Linked DNA regions of Homo sapiens: region 2 is linked to region 1. The links come from fine-mapping of genetic effects on gene expression. Tissue or cell type: whole blood. Region 1 holds a variant in brackets; the other region holds the start of a gene. All regions are shown on one strand. Distances are between the middles of the regions.

Evidence for each region. PIP is the estimated chance that this variant, and not a neighbour inherited with it, causes the effect.
Region 2: EFCAB12 starts here. The variant in region 1 is fine-mapped to the expression of EFCAB12 in whole blood (INTERVAL, PIP 0.98).

What each region holds. Positions count from the first base shown.
Region 1 is chr3:128,523,352-128,531,456 of GRCh38, forward strand. No RefSeq gene overlaps it. Among named protein-coding and RNA genes, the nearest start is that of GATA2, 34 kb to the left of the region's middle. RefSeq lists an enhancer at 1,247-1,746. The variant A/G (reference allele first, on the strand shown) is at 4,208.
Region 2 is chr3:129,424,100-129,432,204 of GRCh38, forward strand. It overlaps EFCAB12 (EF-hand calcium binding domain 12), which reads right to left and starts at 4,537. Exons shown (of 9, transcript NM_207307.3): 1 at 4,341-4,537. The coding sequence starts at 4,389. It overlaps MBD4 (methyl-CpG binding domain 4, DNA glycosylase), which reads right to left. Exons shown (of 8, transcript NM_001276270.2): 8 at 6,848-7,479. The coding sequence ends at 7,402. RefSeq lists an enhancer at 442-491 and a silencer at 4,674-4,723.

The DNA of each region.
Region 1 (8,105 bases):
TCTCCTCTCAGGTGGCTATGGGTCCACCTGTCCTCCGGACTAGCTCTGGAGCCCCCCCTCCCATGCCTCCTGGAACAATGCTGAGCTTCCCCCGTGTGTCTGCAGGTCCTTTCCAGGCTTGTGGCCTGTGTGGGATCCAGCCTGTGGACTGAGGGTGGCTGTCTCCCTCCAGTGGGACTTCGGGGCCTATCTCCACCTGATCCCCAAGAGGATGGTGTCCTCTCAGAGGACAGTGGGGCCCCAGGAGCCTCCTGCGCTGCCCAGCTGGGGGTGCATGCAGGGCCTGGGGAGAGGCGGTGTCCTGTGGAAGGCTCCTGGGAGGCGCTGTCAGAGTCTCACTCTCAGACTTCCTCCCGCCGCTGTGGGAGGCCTGGCTGTGCCCGCGACGTGTGTGGCACAGCGGGCTGGGTTGCAAAATATATCTGGCATGGCAGTTGGTGAAGTAGTTATGCAACCACCACCAACTTACGGAAACCACCGAGCGATGTGCCTTGCTAGCAGAGGTGCCTGGCTTGGCCACGCTGGCCACAGACTCTGGTTCCGTGTTGGCAGTGTGAAAAGTGGCCCAGGCTGTGGAGTGTCGAGAACCATGACAGGTCTTCCCTGAAGTCACCCTGGGAGCACATGACCCACGAGACCCCGGCAGAGCTGGCATCTTCTCCTCCAAGGATCTCCTTCCCATTCTACAGAATCCAGAAGACAGCCTCATCTGGTTATCAGCAGCCGATCCTCCCTAGGAGGCCCACCTCAGAGGGGACAGGCCCAGCCCGGGGCAAGGGTCTCGAGGAGATAACTGCAAAAGGGAGGTGGCTGGAGGCCCACCCTTTGAGGAGCTGAGGTGGCTCAGCCTGGAGAAGGGCAGTGCTGGGCACCCTCTCACCATCCCTCTAAGGAAGCAAGCGGCCTACAGGGCACAGATGGCAACACTGGGGCTTGTGGGGAACTCCCACAGAGGAAGATTCCAGCTCCATATCCACAAGAACTTCCTCCTGCCCAGAGCTTCCACAGATGAGATGGAATGCTGAGAAGGATGTCCTAAAGGGAACCCCCAGCATGTCTGTGCCCCTGGCCTGAAAGTGCTCTTCACCCATCAGGCTGCTCAGCAGAGTGAGGAGAGGAATTCTGAGACCAAGCAGGGAACCCGGTGAGGAGGAGGCCCCTCCCCTCCCCACTGAGTCCCTCCAGCTCCCCTGAGCCTCCACGTCACCTGCCCCAGGGAGAAGTGGGCTGAGCACGGGCTTTGAAGCCAAACCCACCTGGAGCTGATCCCAGCTCGGCCACCTACCCTCTGTGTGGCCCTGCACAAGTCCCTTCCCTTCTCTGAGCCTCTGAGGATTACATGCCATAACGGACAGGAAGTCCATGCTCAGGAGAAGGAAAGTTCATGTTATTTCAAGCTCACACCTGGCTGCCTTCAGCCCTCAGGCTGAAACCTTGCACATTAGACTCACCACCTCCTGGGCTGATAAAATGGACATCAGGTTGGAATGCATCCTTCTAGATGTTTTCATATGCCCTATGTACATATGTATGCATAGCCAGAGGAGGGTTATGATGCTTTGCACAGTACTCGGTACCTTGCTTTTTGCACTCAAAGATTTGTCTTAGAGACCTATTCATGCTAATAAATAGAGCCACTCATTCTCCTTAACTACTACATTATTTAGTGAATGGCTACATCATGGTTTACTTAGCTCTTCCTCTATGATTGGACACTGACGTTATTCCTATTGTTTCGCTCTTACAAACAATGGCTATCTTCACTGATGCCTTCTGGTGTGTATACACAAAGGCTACTTTGAGAATACCCAAAGAAGGGGAATCTCTATGTCAGACAGGATGCACATTTGTCAGTTTAATAGATACAGGCCAGTGAAAATTCATTAGTAAATAAATACAATTTTCAATTCAGCCGCGTTAACACCAAAGGCAAGTTTCAGGTGTTGTGGGTTTTTTTCTTAATTGTTAAGTTGCCTTTAAAATTCCACAATGAATGCATGCTCCTTGTAAAAAATAGATGCCCATATTTTTTAAGCGCAATTTCCACCCTTCCTAGCCCATTCCCTTCTCCCAGTTGTGAACAGTGGACACATATTTGCTATGCATTTGCAAACACACAAATCAATACGAATTTTTTTACATAAATGAGATATAGATAGACAGATATAAAACTTGATTTTCTACTTTACTGACATATCTTGGACATCTTTCCATGTTAGTAGATTCATATCTGGATCTTTACTTTTAATGGTTACATAGAATTTTATTATAAGAAGGACTATAATAAATTTACTCAGTCTCTTATTGATAGACATTTTCATTCTTTTCCATCTTTTGCTATCATAAACGAAATTGCAGTGAACGTTCTTGCACATGCATCTTTGTAAGCTTTGAAAATACATTGAACTAAAGCAAACAAAACTAATCCTGGAAACGTTGACAGACAGGTGTTAGAAGACAGAAATTCACTACACTTTGGGGAAAGGCTGGTGACTAGGAAGGGATCCCAGAGGGTCTCTGGGATCCTAGGATGGTCTAATTCTGGTTACAAGGGTGTGTTCTGTTTCTGAAAATTCACCAGTTGTGAGTTGTGCGTTTTTCTATATGTATTTTACTTTTCTGTATGTATGTTACATGTAAAATTTTACTTTAACATGGTAAGTGAAAAATATATATATATAAGTTTTTCAGAGGAAATGTGAGAGATGACTGAAACTCTATAACAAGTTAAATTCTTTTTTATTTTAATTTTAGTTTCAGGGGGTACATGTGCAGGTTTGTTTCAAGGTATATTTCAGCCGGGTGCAATGGCTCAAACCTGTAATCCTGGCACTTTGGGAGACCAAGGCAGGAAGATCCCTTGAGGCCAGGAGTTCAAGACCAGCTTGGGCAACATGGTAAAACCCCATGTCTACCAAAAAAAATTTTTAAAAATAGCCAGGCATGGTGGTGTGCACCTGGAGGCTGAGGTGGGAGGACTGCATGAGCCCAGGAGGTCAAAACAACAGGGAGCCATGACTGTGCCACTGTACTCCAGCCTGGGCAACAGAGCAAGACCTTGTCTCAAAAAAAAAAAAAAAAAAGAGGGGAGGGTATATTTCATGATGCTGGAGTTAGGGCTTCTGTTGATCCTGTCACCCAGAGAGTGAACATAGTATTCAATAGGGAGATTTTTAGTCCTTGCCCTTCTCCCTCCCTCCCTCCTTTTGGAGTCCCCAGTGTCTGTTCTCATTTTCATGTCCATGTGTACCCAAGATTTAGCTTCCACCTGTAAGTGAGAACATGAGGTATTTGGCTTTCTATTTCTGCATTAATTCATTTATGATAATAGCTTCCAGCTGCAGCCATGTTGCTGCAAAGGACATGATTTTGTTCTTTTTTATGGCTTCATAGTGTTCCATGGTGTACATGTGCCACATTTTCTTTATCCAATCCACTGCTGATGGATTGACTTTCAAGTTGATTTTATGACTTTCCTATTGTGAATAGGACAAGTTAAATCCTAATTTATGCACAACTTATATACTGAACATGGTTATACAGTTTGCTTGCAGACGTTGAATAAGTAACCAGGGGAAGCATAGGGTGGAATGGAACTAAATGTGCTTAGGGACTTATAATTCCAGGGAGTTCAGAAAAACTTTCCTGAGGAACTAATGTTTAAGCTGAAACCTAAAAGATAATGAAGCCTGTTTCTTCTGTCCTTTTTCTTGTGTTTTCAATCACACCCCATCTTCTCATTTGCCTGGTGATTTTTAATTGCGTGCCAGACATTGTCTATGAAAACCTATAGAGATAATATAAAGTTCTGAATGATGGTATCTTTCTTTAGAAAGGATTTACATTTGCTTCTAGAGAACAGCCAGGGTAGAAACATTACCAGTCTTCGATCATCTCAATCCAATCGTGGAGATAATTCAAAACTAAGCATCAATCCCAATGAGAGATGGCCTATTTCTGATTCACTCTTGCTTGGTTTTTAATAACAGTTCTATTGAGATATGATTCACACACTATACAATTCACCCATTCAAAGTGCAAAATTCAGTGGTGCTTAATATATTCATGGATTTATGCAAGCATTTCTAAATCAATTTTAGAATGTTTTCATAGCTCAAAAAAAAAATTCACATCCTTTAACTATCACCCCTCTTATCACCCCCATATGCCCTACCTCTAAGCAACCACTAATCTACTTTCTGTCCCT[A/G]TAATTTGCCTATTCTAGACATTCAATAAAAATGGGATTATATTCTTTTTGTGACTAGCTCTTTTTGTGGTCTTTCTGTGACTAGCTCTTTCACTTAGCATAATGTTTTCAAGTTTTATCCAAGTAGTAACAAGCGCCAGTATTCCTTTCTCTTTATGACTGAATAATATTCTAGTCTATGGCTATATCACATTTTATTTACCCATTTATCAGTTGATGGACATTTGGGTTGTTTCTACCTTTTGGATATTATGAATAGTGCTTCTGTGAACATTTGTGTACAAGTTTTAATGTAAACATGTGTTTCCACTTCTCTTGGGTAGATACCCAAGAGTAAAATTTCTAAGTCATAGGGTAACTCCACGCTTGACCATTTGAAGAACTGCCAGACTGTTTTCTAAAGTGACTGTACCATTTTATATTCCCACCAGCACTGTATGAGGGTCCCAATTTCTCCATATCCTCATCAACACTTGTTATTTGACTTTTTATTATAGCTATCCTAGTGGATGTGAATCAATGTGTCCTGGTTTTGATTTGCATTTCCCTGATAACTAATGATGTTGATCATTTTTTCACATGTTTATTGGACATTGGTATATCTTCTTTGGAGAAATGCCATTTTGAAATGGCCAAAGGACTTGAATTTGTTTATTTGGTTTTTGTTTTTGTTTTTGTTCTTGTTTTGTTTTTGTTCTTGTTCTTGTTCTTGTTTTTTGAGACGGAGTCTCACCCTGTCGCCCAGGCTGGAGTGCAGTGGTGCGATCTTGGCTCACTGCAATCTCCACTTCCCGGGTTCAAGAAATTTCTACCTCAGGCTCCCAAGTTGCTGGGATTACAGGTGCCCACCACCATGCCTGGCTAATTTTTGTATTTTTAGTAGAGATGGGGTTTCACCGTCTTGGCTAGGCTGATCTTGAACTCCTGACCTCGTGATATACCCTCATTGGCCTCCCAAAGTGCTGGGATTACAGGCATGAGCCACCACGCCCAGCTGTTTATTTGGTTTTTTAAAAAATTATTGAGTTGTAAGATTTTTAAAAATATTTTTAGATACAAGTCCTTTATCAGATACATAATTTGAAAATATTTTATTCCATTCTGTGGGTTGTCTTTTCACTTTCTTGATGGTATCTTTTGAAGCACAAAAGTTTTTAATTTCGACAAATTTCTAATTTTTCTATTTATTTCTTTTGTTGCTTATGCTTTTGGTGTTCAGTCTAAGAATCATTGCCAAATCTGAGGTCTTGAAGATTTACTCCTATATTTCTTCTAATAGTTTTATAGTTTTAGGTCTATTTTTTTCTTTGACAGCTTTAGGGTACAAGTGGATTTTGGTTATATGGATAAACTGTATGGAAGTGAATATTTAGGTCTTTGATCCATTTTGAGTCAATTTTTTATATGGTGTAAGGTAAGGGTCCAACTTCTTTCCTTCGCATATGTCTACCCAGTTGTCCCAGTACCACTGGTTGAAAAAACTATTCTTTCCCCATCTTGGCAACATTGTGAAAAATCAGTTTGCCACCAATGCATGGGTTTAATTCTAGATTTTTATTCTATTCCATTGGTCTTTCTGGCTATCCTTATGCTAGTACCACACTGTCTTGATTACTGTTGCTTTGTAGTACTTTTTTTCTTTTTTTTTTTTAGATGGAGTCTCACTCTCTCACCAGGCTGGAGTGCAGTGGCATGATCTCGGCTCACTGCAACCTCCACCTCCTGGGTTGGAGCAATTTTCCTGCCTCAGCCTCCCAAGTAGCTGGAACTACAGGTGTGCGCCACCATACCCAGCTAATTTTTGTATTTTTAGTAGAGACGGAGTTTCACCGGGTTGGCCAGGATGGTCTCGATCTCTTGACCTCGTGATTCACCTGCCTCGGCCTCCCAAAGTGCTGGGATTACATGTGTAAGCCACCACACCCGGCCTGTAGAGAGTTTTAAAATCAGGACGTGTAAGTCCTCCTACTTTGTTCTTCTTTTTAAGAATTGTTTTTGGCTATTCTTGATCCCCCACAATTCCATATGAATCTTAGAACCAGATTTTCTATTTTACCATTAAAAGAATTCAGCTGTGATTCTGACAGAGACTTTGTTGAATCTGTACATCAATTTGGGGAATATTGTCATTTTAACAATATTAAGACTTCTGATCCATGCATATGGGATGTTCTTCCATTTATTTCTATTTCCTTTTTTTTTTTTTTTTTTTTTTTTTTTTTTTTTTTTTTTGAGATGTAGCTTCGCTCTTGTTGCCCAGGCTGGAGTGCAATGGCTCAATCTCGGCTGACTGCAACCTCTGTCTCTTGGGTTCAAGTAATTCTCCTGCCTCAGCCTCCCAAGCAGCTGAGATTATAGGCATGCACCACCATGCCTGGCTAATTATTTCTATTTTCTTTAGATTGCTTAATAAAAATGTTTTGTAGTTTTCAGATTATATGTTTTACACTTCTTTAGTTAAGTTTATCACTAAGGATTTTAGGTTTTTGGTGCTATTTGCTATTGAATTGTTTTCTTACTTTCATTTTTAGATTGTTCATTGCAAGTGTATAGAAATACAATTGACTTTTATATATTGATCTTGTATTTTACAACCATGCTTAATTCATTTATTAGCTCTAATACTTTTTCTAGTGAGTTAGGATTTTCTGTTTATAATATTATGTCTTCTGTGAATAGAGATAATTTTACTTCTTTCTTATCAATATGAATGCATTATATTTCTTTTAATTGACCAACTAGCCTGCTAGAACCTCTAGTATAATGTTAAATAGAAGTGGCAAGAGTGGGTATCCTTGCCTTGTGTCTGATCCTAGAGAAAAAGTATCCAGTCTTTCATGATTCAGTATGATGTTAGCAGTAGGTGTTTTGTAGATGTCCTTTATCAGGTTGAGGAAGTTCCCTTCTACTACAGGTTTGATGAATGTTTTTATTATGAAATGTTGTTGGATTTTGTCAAATGCTTTTTTCTGCATCTATTGAGATGATCATTTGGTTTTGTCCTTCATTCTGTTGATATGGTGTATTGCACTGATTGATTTTTAAATGTTGACTAACCTTACATTCTTGAATAAATACCCCTTGGTTATAGTGTATAATTTGTTATATATGTTGCTGGATTGAGTCTGCCAGTATTTTGTGTAGGAGTTTTGCATTCATAATCATGAGATATTGGTCTGTAGTTTTCTTCTCGTGTAATTTTTTTGTCTGGTTTTGGTATCAGTGTACTGCTGGCATCATAGAAAGAGTTGGGAATTGTTCTCTCATCTTCTTTTTTTTTGGAGAAAAAGTTGTGAAATTCTTTAAATTTTTGGTAGAATTCACCAGAAGTCATCTGGCCCTGAGTTTCTCTTTGGGAGTAGTTCTGTTGTTGTTGTTTACTAACTCAATCTTTTTGCTTGTTACAGGTCTATTCAGATTGTTTGTTTCTTCTTGAATTAGTTTTGGTAGTTTGTGCCTTTCTAGGAATTTGCCCACTTCATCTAGGTTACCTAATTTTATTAGCATATAATTGATCACAGTTTTCATTTATAATCATTTTTATTTCTGTAAGTTCAGTAGTAACATTCCCTCATTCATTCCTGATTCTAAATATTGAGTCTTTTCTGTCTTTTACTTATTCAGTCCAGCTAAAAGTCTATTTTACATGAATTAGTATAGCCAATCCAGCCCTCTTGTGTTTGCTGTTTGCATAATATATCCTTTTCCAATTCTTTTTTTCAGTCTATTTGTATCTGTAACTCCAAATTGTGGCTCCTTTAGACAAGGTATAGTTGGGTCTTGTTTGTTTTTCCCGTGTGACAATCTCTGACTTTTGACTAGATTGTTTAATCCATTTACATATAATGTTATTATTGATATAATCGGATCTACTTCTGCTATTTTACTTTTTTTTCTC
Region 2 (8,105 bases), 900 kb after region 1:
CCCAACAGCCTGTGAGTTTCCCAGTGACCAGGACTGTGTCTTAGTTCCCCTGTGTCCTCGGTGCCCAGCCTGGCCCAAAGTGGACATTCAGTACATTTGTTAAGTCTCTTTACAAGGCCCATGTGTTCCTTTCAGAGTCAGCAAATAAGAAAAGTAAACATCATGGTATGGTTTGCATCTGTGTCCTTGCCCAAATCTCATGTTAAATTATAATCCCCATTGTTGGAGGAGGGGTCTAGTGGGAGGTGATTGGATCATGGGAGAGGACGTCCCCCTTGCTGTTCTCATGAGAGCGAGTGCTCACAAGATCTGGTTGTTCAAAAGCATAGCACCTCCCCCTGCTCTCACTTCCTCCTTCTTGGGTTATGTAAGATGTGCCTGTCTTTGCCTTCTGCCATGATTGTAAGTTTCCTGAGGCCTCCCCAGCCATGTTTCCTGTACAGCCTGAGGAACTGTGAGTCAATTAAACCTCATCTCTTTATAAATTACCTAGTCTCAGGTAGTTCTTTATAGCAATGCTAGAACAGATATTACACATCAATAGGGATGGAAGCGAACACTTCTAAACAACACATGTATCATTACTTTGACCACAAGAAAGTTCATTCCCAGCAGGGGATGACTGAGAATGTAGTCATTCATCAAATCAGTATTTATTGAGAATCCCCCAGGGCTTGGTGCTGAACCAGGTGCAGATTAAACTAGGCTGGGCACCTACCGTGGTTCACCTGTTCTCAGTCCACCCAATGGAACAAGGTGGGGCACCCAGAGGGTAACAAGATGTTCTCAGTTGGGGGAGAAATGCTGACTGTGGGACCTGGGAGGGCATCAAGGAAGAGGTGTCTTTGATGTGGACCTTCAAGAATGGTCTGGCTTCATGGGGTGGAGGGGCAGGGATGGGGAAAGGTCAGGAGTGGGATTTGGGGATTTTAGGGTCACCAGACAGTTCCACATGTTGGAAGCCCACTGTGTGTAAAGGAGGAGGTTAGTGGGAAATAAGGTTGGCGTCATCTCAAATGCCAGGCTAAGAGATTGAAACTTTACCCTGCAGGCCACGGGAACACAAAACCTGCTCCCCACAGGTCTTGCTGCTCCCATTTGGGTCCTCCCTAGACCCCCAATCCATGTTCTGCCCTCAGCCAGGAGAGCCTTACAAATGTAAATTCACAGTCTGTCCCTTCCCCATTTGAAACCATTCAATGGATTCTTAGTGCTCTTTGAATAAATACCCGCCTCCTTCTGTGGCCTACAAAGCTGCCTTCACTGGCCCTGCTCCCCACTCTTCCCTTGTCACCTCCCAGCCCCCGCCCCCTCACTCATGTGGTCCCAGCTGCTGTCCTCCTTTCTGTTGTCTGAGGTGCCTTGTTCCTTCCTGGCTCTGGGTTTTCAGTTTTTGCATTTGCTGTGCCCTCTGAAGAGCACTGCATTCCCCAGGGCTTCCCCTGGCCGAGTCATTCTCCTCACAGTTCTAAACCTGCACCAGCCCCTGACCCCACTTTCCAAGGGTGCCTGCCCACCAAACCTCCTCAGGGAGCTTCATTCTAGTGCTCTTTGGAGTCCTGTGTCCATTGACAGAAAGGGAAATGGGCTCTTATAATAAAAGAGGCTGTCATTGTGTAGTTATGGGTAGAGACTATGTGACAATGTTCCTAGGAAATTGGCAAGGAAAGCTCTCAGACGCCAGCTAGTTCAATCACCTGCCCAGGTCAGGGACACTCTCCTCAATGCCACTGGCAGACTTTGCCTCTGTTTATACATCTCCTGTGACGTGGAACTTTCTACTTAACATGGTGGACACTAAACTCTGACTGCTAGAAAATATTTCCTTATATTGACCCAGAATTTGTTTCCCTGGACTTTCTACCCTTTGGTTCTAGTCCTCCCCATGGATGTCCCAGAAAACACACTTGTTCTCTCTTTTCTCAGACAGCCTATAGGTGTCTGGAAACAATTCTACTCTTTCTTGAAATTCTCCCTGCTCTTGGCTTGATTCAATCTCTTGCTATGTCCAATTCTACCTCTCCGGCTATTGTTTTTGGGCCCCTCTTTTCCTGATTACTCCTTAAAGGTTGTTGCTTCCAGGCTTATACCCAGGGTCTCTTCTCTTTTTAAATAATCCCTTCCATTCTCATGTTTCTATGACCTTCTGTATGCTGGGGACATCCATACCAATATTTTTGACTTGGAATTAGCTCCAAGTTTATACCTCCAGTTGTTCCTAAAACATCTCCACTTGGATGGCTTACAGGGTTTTTTTTTGTTTTTTTTTTTTTTTTTTTTTTTGAGACGGACTCTTGCTCTGTTTCCCAGGCTAAAGTGCAGTGGCACGATCTCGGCTCTCTGCAAGCTCTGCCTCCCGGGTTCACGCCATTCTCCTGCCTCAGCCTCCCGAGTACCTGGGACTACAGGTGTCTGCCACCACGACCGGCTAATTTTTTGTATTTTTAGTAGAGATGGGGTTTCACTGTGTTAGCCAGGATGGTCTCGATCTCCTGACCTGGTGATCCGCCCACCTCAGCCTCCCAAAGTGCTAGGATTACAGGCGTGAGCCACGGCGCCCGGCCGGGGATCTTTTTTTATTATTTATTTTTAATTGAGACAGGGTCTTGCTCTGTTCCCCAAGCTGGAGTACAGTGGCTCAATCATAGCTCACTGCAGCCTTGAACTCCTGGGCTCAAATGATCCTCCCAGCTCAGCCTCCTGAGTAGCTGGGACTACAGGTGCATGCCATTAAGCCTAGCTAACCTTTTTTTTTTTTTTTTTTTTGAGATGGTGTCTTGCTCTGTCACCCAGGCTGGAGTGCAATGGCATGATCTTGGCTCACTGCAAGCTCCACCTCCCTGGTTCATGCCATTCTCCTGCCTCAGCCTCCTGAGTAGCTGTGACTACAGGCGCCTGCCACCATGCCCGGCTAATTTTTTGTATTTTTAGTAGAGACGGGGTTTCATTGTGTTAGCCAGGATGGTCTTGATCTCCTGACCTCGTGATCCACCCACCTCAGCCTCCTAAAGTGCTGGGATTACAGGCGTGAGCCACCCCACCAGGCCTGGCTAACTTTAAAAAACAATTTTGTAGAGATGGGATCTCACTATGTTGCCCAGGCTATTCTCAAACTCCTGGGCTCAAGCAATCCTCCTGCCTCAGCTTCCCATAGTGCTGGGATTACAGGCGTGAGATACTGTGCCCAGCTACTGACAAGGATCTTAAACTCAACCAACCAAGACTGGATTTGTCTTTGTGCCCCTTCCCCCACTAACTGGGTCCTCTGAGTACGTTCTCTTATCTCTGTGGAAGACATCTCCATCTACCAGGTCCCCCAGCTGCCAACTTGAGAACCATCTTTATTTGCCTCTTCTGTGTTTCCTGACCAACCAGCCCCCAAGTCCCGTAGTTCCCTCTAGCCTGGGCCTTCTCCCTCACCTCCCAGCATCTTTAGCTTGGGCATTTGACCAGAGCCCTGACCTGTGTGCCTGGGAAAGGTGGCCAGCCTCTCCAGCTCTCCCTGTTTCTCCACTGGGCATTAATGTGTTCAGTGCTGGAGAAGCGGCATGGAGAAGACCTTCAGTCTTCAAGCTTTATAGCCCCCAGCTCTCATCTCCCCACACCAACATTCTGAGTCTGCCAACTCAGTCTCAGGTCTTTTCTGACTGCTCCCAATCCAGTCCTGCCACTCCCAGTGGCCTCTCCATCTCCTGGCTTGCAGTATCTTTTATGATCTTGTCCCTTCTGACCTCTCTCACCTCATTTCCAGAGACACCAGACCTCTTGGGTCATGCTGTTTCCTTGCCCGAAATGCTTTTCCTTCCCCTTTTGGCTTGGAGAACTCCTTTTTATCCTTTAAGCTCCAGTGTAAAGATCTTTTCCAAAAGCTTGGAACTGTTCCTCCCCATCCCATACCCTCAGCACACCTTTTACTCCTGGGTGTCATCCCTGGGCCCGGCATTTACCCCTTCTTATTCTGTAATTATCCATTTATCTCTGTCCTTTACCCGTGAAGCTGCATTGCTTTGCCAAGAACTTGGTCCCCAGCACATTACTGCCAAAACCTTGAAGACTGACGTCTTCTCCATGCCTCTCCTCCAGTACTGAATACATTAATGTCCTGCAGAGAAACAGGGCGAGCTGGAGGGCTCCCGTCACATGGGTCGGGCCTCTGGTTCCTCCAACTAGGCTCAGATAGAAATCTCAGAAATGTACATGACCTGCCCCCGACTCCATGGCAACCCTTCACCCAGAGGGGGTCGGCACAATATCTGTGGCTGAGTTTTTGCCCTCACCCCACTTTCACGCGTCCTTAGGGCGCTGAGCGCTCCCTGCAGACGCTTCTTCCCGGGGCTTACCGAGCAGCGACAAGAACAGACTGTGGTACGCTTCATAGTCGTCGTCCATGGTCGTGGTGCTGGGAGGGGGTGCTGAAGGGCGTGTGTGAATGTGTGTCGATGTGGGCTTGCTTGCGTAGGGGTACCGGGGTATCAGATAAACCGTAACTCCAAGTCGTGCGAAAGGCGCTCAGCTCAGACTGCAGAAGCAACCTGTTGCCGTGGCTACGGACGCCCCGCGCCAATTGGCTGAGCGCTGTCACGTGTTAAGAGCGAGCCCGCCCTGCCGAGCGCCTGCTGGCCCCACCTCGTTTTCGTCCAATTCTGGGAGGGGCAGCGAGCAAATCCACGCCCCGCCCAGTTCTGGGCTTGGTGAAAGGCGGGATTTCTTTGTTCGGCCCAGTAGTCCCTGAATCCAGTGTAGAAAGTCTCCGGTTTTCCCGTGAAATGTGGGATCTTCCGCAGGTCTCCATATCTCTAGGCCTCAGTTTTCTCATAGGAAAAATAGGCCCTGCCTCCTCCAGAGGGTTAGGAAGAACCAAAGTGAGCTGTGGCCAGATAGAGGTGTTGGGTATGTTCTGCCCCGCTTATGGCAGGGTGCCATGGTTTGGAGTTACAGAACCTGAGGACCAGAGAATAATAATAAACCCTTGAAATGTGCATCAACTGATAAGCAAAATGAGGTATATCCATAGGATGGCCATAAGAAGGAATGAAGTACATGCTACAATATGGATAAACCTTCAAAACAGTATGCTAAGCAAGAAGCTAGACACAAAAGGCCACGTGCTGTATGATTCCATTTATGTGAAATGTTCAGCATAGACGAACCCACAGACACGGAAAGTAGATGAATGGTTGCTAGGGGATGGGGTGAGTAATTGAAGTGACTGCTAACAGGTGGAGAGATTCTTTTTGGAGTGGAAAAAAGAAATGGAAACTTCTGGAATTAGTGATGATGGCTGCACACTGTAAATGTACTAAACCACTGAACTGTACACTTTAAAATGGTTAAATGGTGGCTTTTAGCTCAATTTTTAAAAAGTTAAAGAGAAACACCTAAGCCCTTATTCCTTTGCTGAGACAAGCTATCTTTGTGACGCTTGCAAACAGATTGTTGCCATGGGCCACATTCACACAGCACTCTTGCAAGCCAGGTACCATTTTAGCACTACATGTCTGAACTTCATAATTACCATCATTGTGTGAGGTAGACACCACTATCCCATTTTTAAAAGACAAGTTAACAGGTACAGAGGTCAGGCAACCTCACCTGCAAGAAACAGGAAAAGCCAGGCCTAGAGCCTGAGCAACCTGGCTGTGTCCTGAGCTCCCCTGGTGCAGAGCTCGCCTCCTGCATTCACACGGGCCCACACTCCCCATGGAGATGCTGGGGGAAGGTATGTGACCACCAGCCCTACCACAAAGCCACACCTGATGCCCTGAGCTTGGTGAGCTCGCCCCACCCTCCAGGCCCAGCTGGGCCCAAGGTTTCAGAGGCCCCTCTCCACCCTCTTTGGGTGTCTTGTCCCTACTCCTTACCGCTTTTGTTCCCTTCCATTATTAGGTGCCCTTCTTTCTCTCTGTGAGGGTCTGTACAGAACTTGTTTATCTTTGTGCCCCTCCCCACCACAGGGCTTTACACTTTGTGAATGCTACTTGGATGTTTGTTAAATGAAAATGTGATGGTAAACTATAAAGTGGGTTTGCCTTGGGGAGAGGGAGGTGTGGCCAGTTTTCCTGTTCTCTGGTCAAAATCTATCCTTCTAAAAACTGACACTCACTAAAGTGGAAACAACCAACTACCTCTGCATCACACTGCAGCCTGATTCGGTTCACACTGCCCTACAACAAAGGCAGTTTCCTGAACAACTGATTTATTTTTCATTTATTCAATCAATTTAATTTTCAAATTATACCTTAAAATGGTAGTTGGTAATTAAGACATAGTAACTAGTTTTTTCCCTTGGTTTCTTTCTAATAGTAAATGCTTTGGTATTTGAACTGTAACAATACTTGTAATAAAAATGGCATTAAGACTTATTTTTTTTAAGACAGGGTCTTGCTGTGTCATCCAGGCTGAAGTGCAGTGGTGTGATCATAGCTCACTGCAGCCTCAATCTCCTGGGCTCAAGGGATTCTCCCACCTCAGCCTTCTGAGTAGCTGGGACCACAAGTGTATGTCACCATGCCCAATTAATTTTTAAAATTTTTTGTAGAGACGGGGTCTCATTATGTTGCCCAGTCTGGTTTTGAACTCCTGGGCTCAAGCAATCCTCCTGCCTCAGCCTCCCAAAGTGCTAGGATTACAGGTGTAAGCCACTGTGCCTGGCCAAATGGTATAAACTCCAAATGGAAGATGAGAAATGAGTTTTCACAAAGGGACCAAGGTAAAAGAGTGAGTGAGCTGAAATGGAGCAGCAGGCCCATATTCACATTAGGTTATCAAATGGATACTGGGGTGGAATCTACAATTCCTAAGAGCTAGTGTGGAGCTGTCAACAATACACAATGCCAGAGGAATCTTATTTGTCTTTGGGGTCAGCTTTTATTTTTATTTTTTAAATATATATTTTTTGAGACAGGGTCTCTCTCTGTCATCCAGACTGGAGTGCAGTGGCATGATCATGGCTCACTGAAGCCTTGACCTCCTGGGCCCTCATGAGCTCAAATGATCCTCCTGCCTCAGCCTTCCGAGATTACAGGCATGCACCACCACGCCTAGCCGATAAAAATATTTAGTGGGCCCCTAGCTTTAGCAAGGCTGATAGAAATTTGCTTTGTATTATTGATAGTTTAGAACTATTTTTCATCTTCTGATTATATTTCATCATTGGAAAAGCCGTATTTTTTTTGGATTGTTGTCAAATAATAATTTATTTTAAAAAAATCTCAAAACATGTTCAAACACATTCAGTAGCAAAGATCCACCATTGGCACACACATTAAGAAAGCACACACACTAGGCTTCTAGTTGGGCTAATTAAAATCTCTATGGCTGGAAAGGTGGTTGGTTGTACTTAATTAAGCTTTTTTGAAGTGCAAAGCTATGCATAACAGATGAGCTTGAAAGCTGCAGAGTTTAAGATAGACTTAATTTTTCATGATTTTCCCAAAGCCAGTCATGATATTTATTTAATTTGTGGTCTTCAGGGTGCACCTGGAAGAAACATAAGATACAGAGGCAGAGACCTTAATGTAACTTAGTCAGAAATACATTTTTTAAAATTGGCTTTTTAAATGTTTGCTGGGGGACAGTACATTACGATACCATACCTAAAAGTTATAACCTTTAACCTCCTGGGATTCATGAATATTTTAAGTTATACCTTATATTAAGGTAATCTCACACAATTTACAAGGTACTGTCCAAATTACTACTCAACCATGACTTAGAATGTGGGGTGGCGATAACATGAGTCAAGTATTAATACCTCACTTTCCAGAAGGAGGTTCTAGACCGAGAGGTTAAATGGATTCTCAGGTCACAATGGATTGCTCTGATGAAGCTGGGATAGGACCATGGTCCTTCAGTTCAGGCTTGGCCAGACCTACTGGCTGAATGCATGAGGGTGAGTCTCAAGCTGAGTGGGCAGCATACCAGGCCACCCACCAGCTGCCAGGATGACCACCAGCATGCCACAGGCTGGGCATATTCAACAGGGCTGAAGCAGGACCCAGTCACCACAAACGTAGTCTGAGACCACTAAGAGAAACCCAATATGCATACATTGCAGGCCCAAACCTTCCTGCTTTCCTGTAGTGGTGTACTTTTGACAGGAGGAA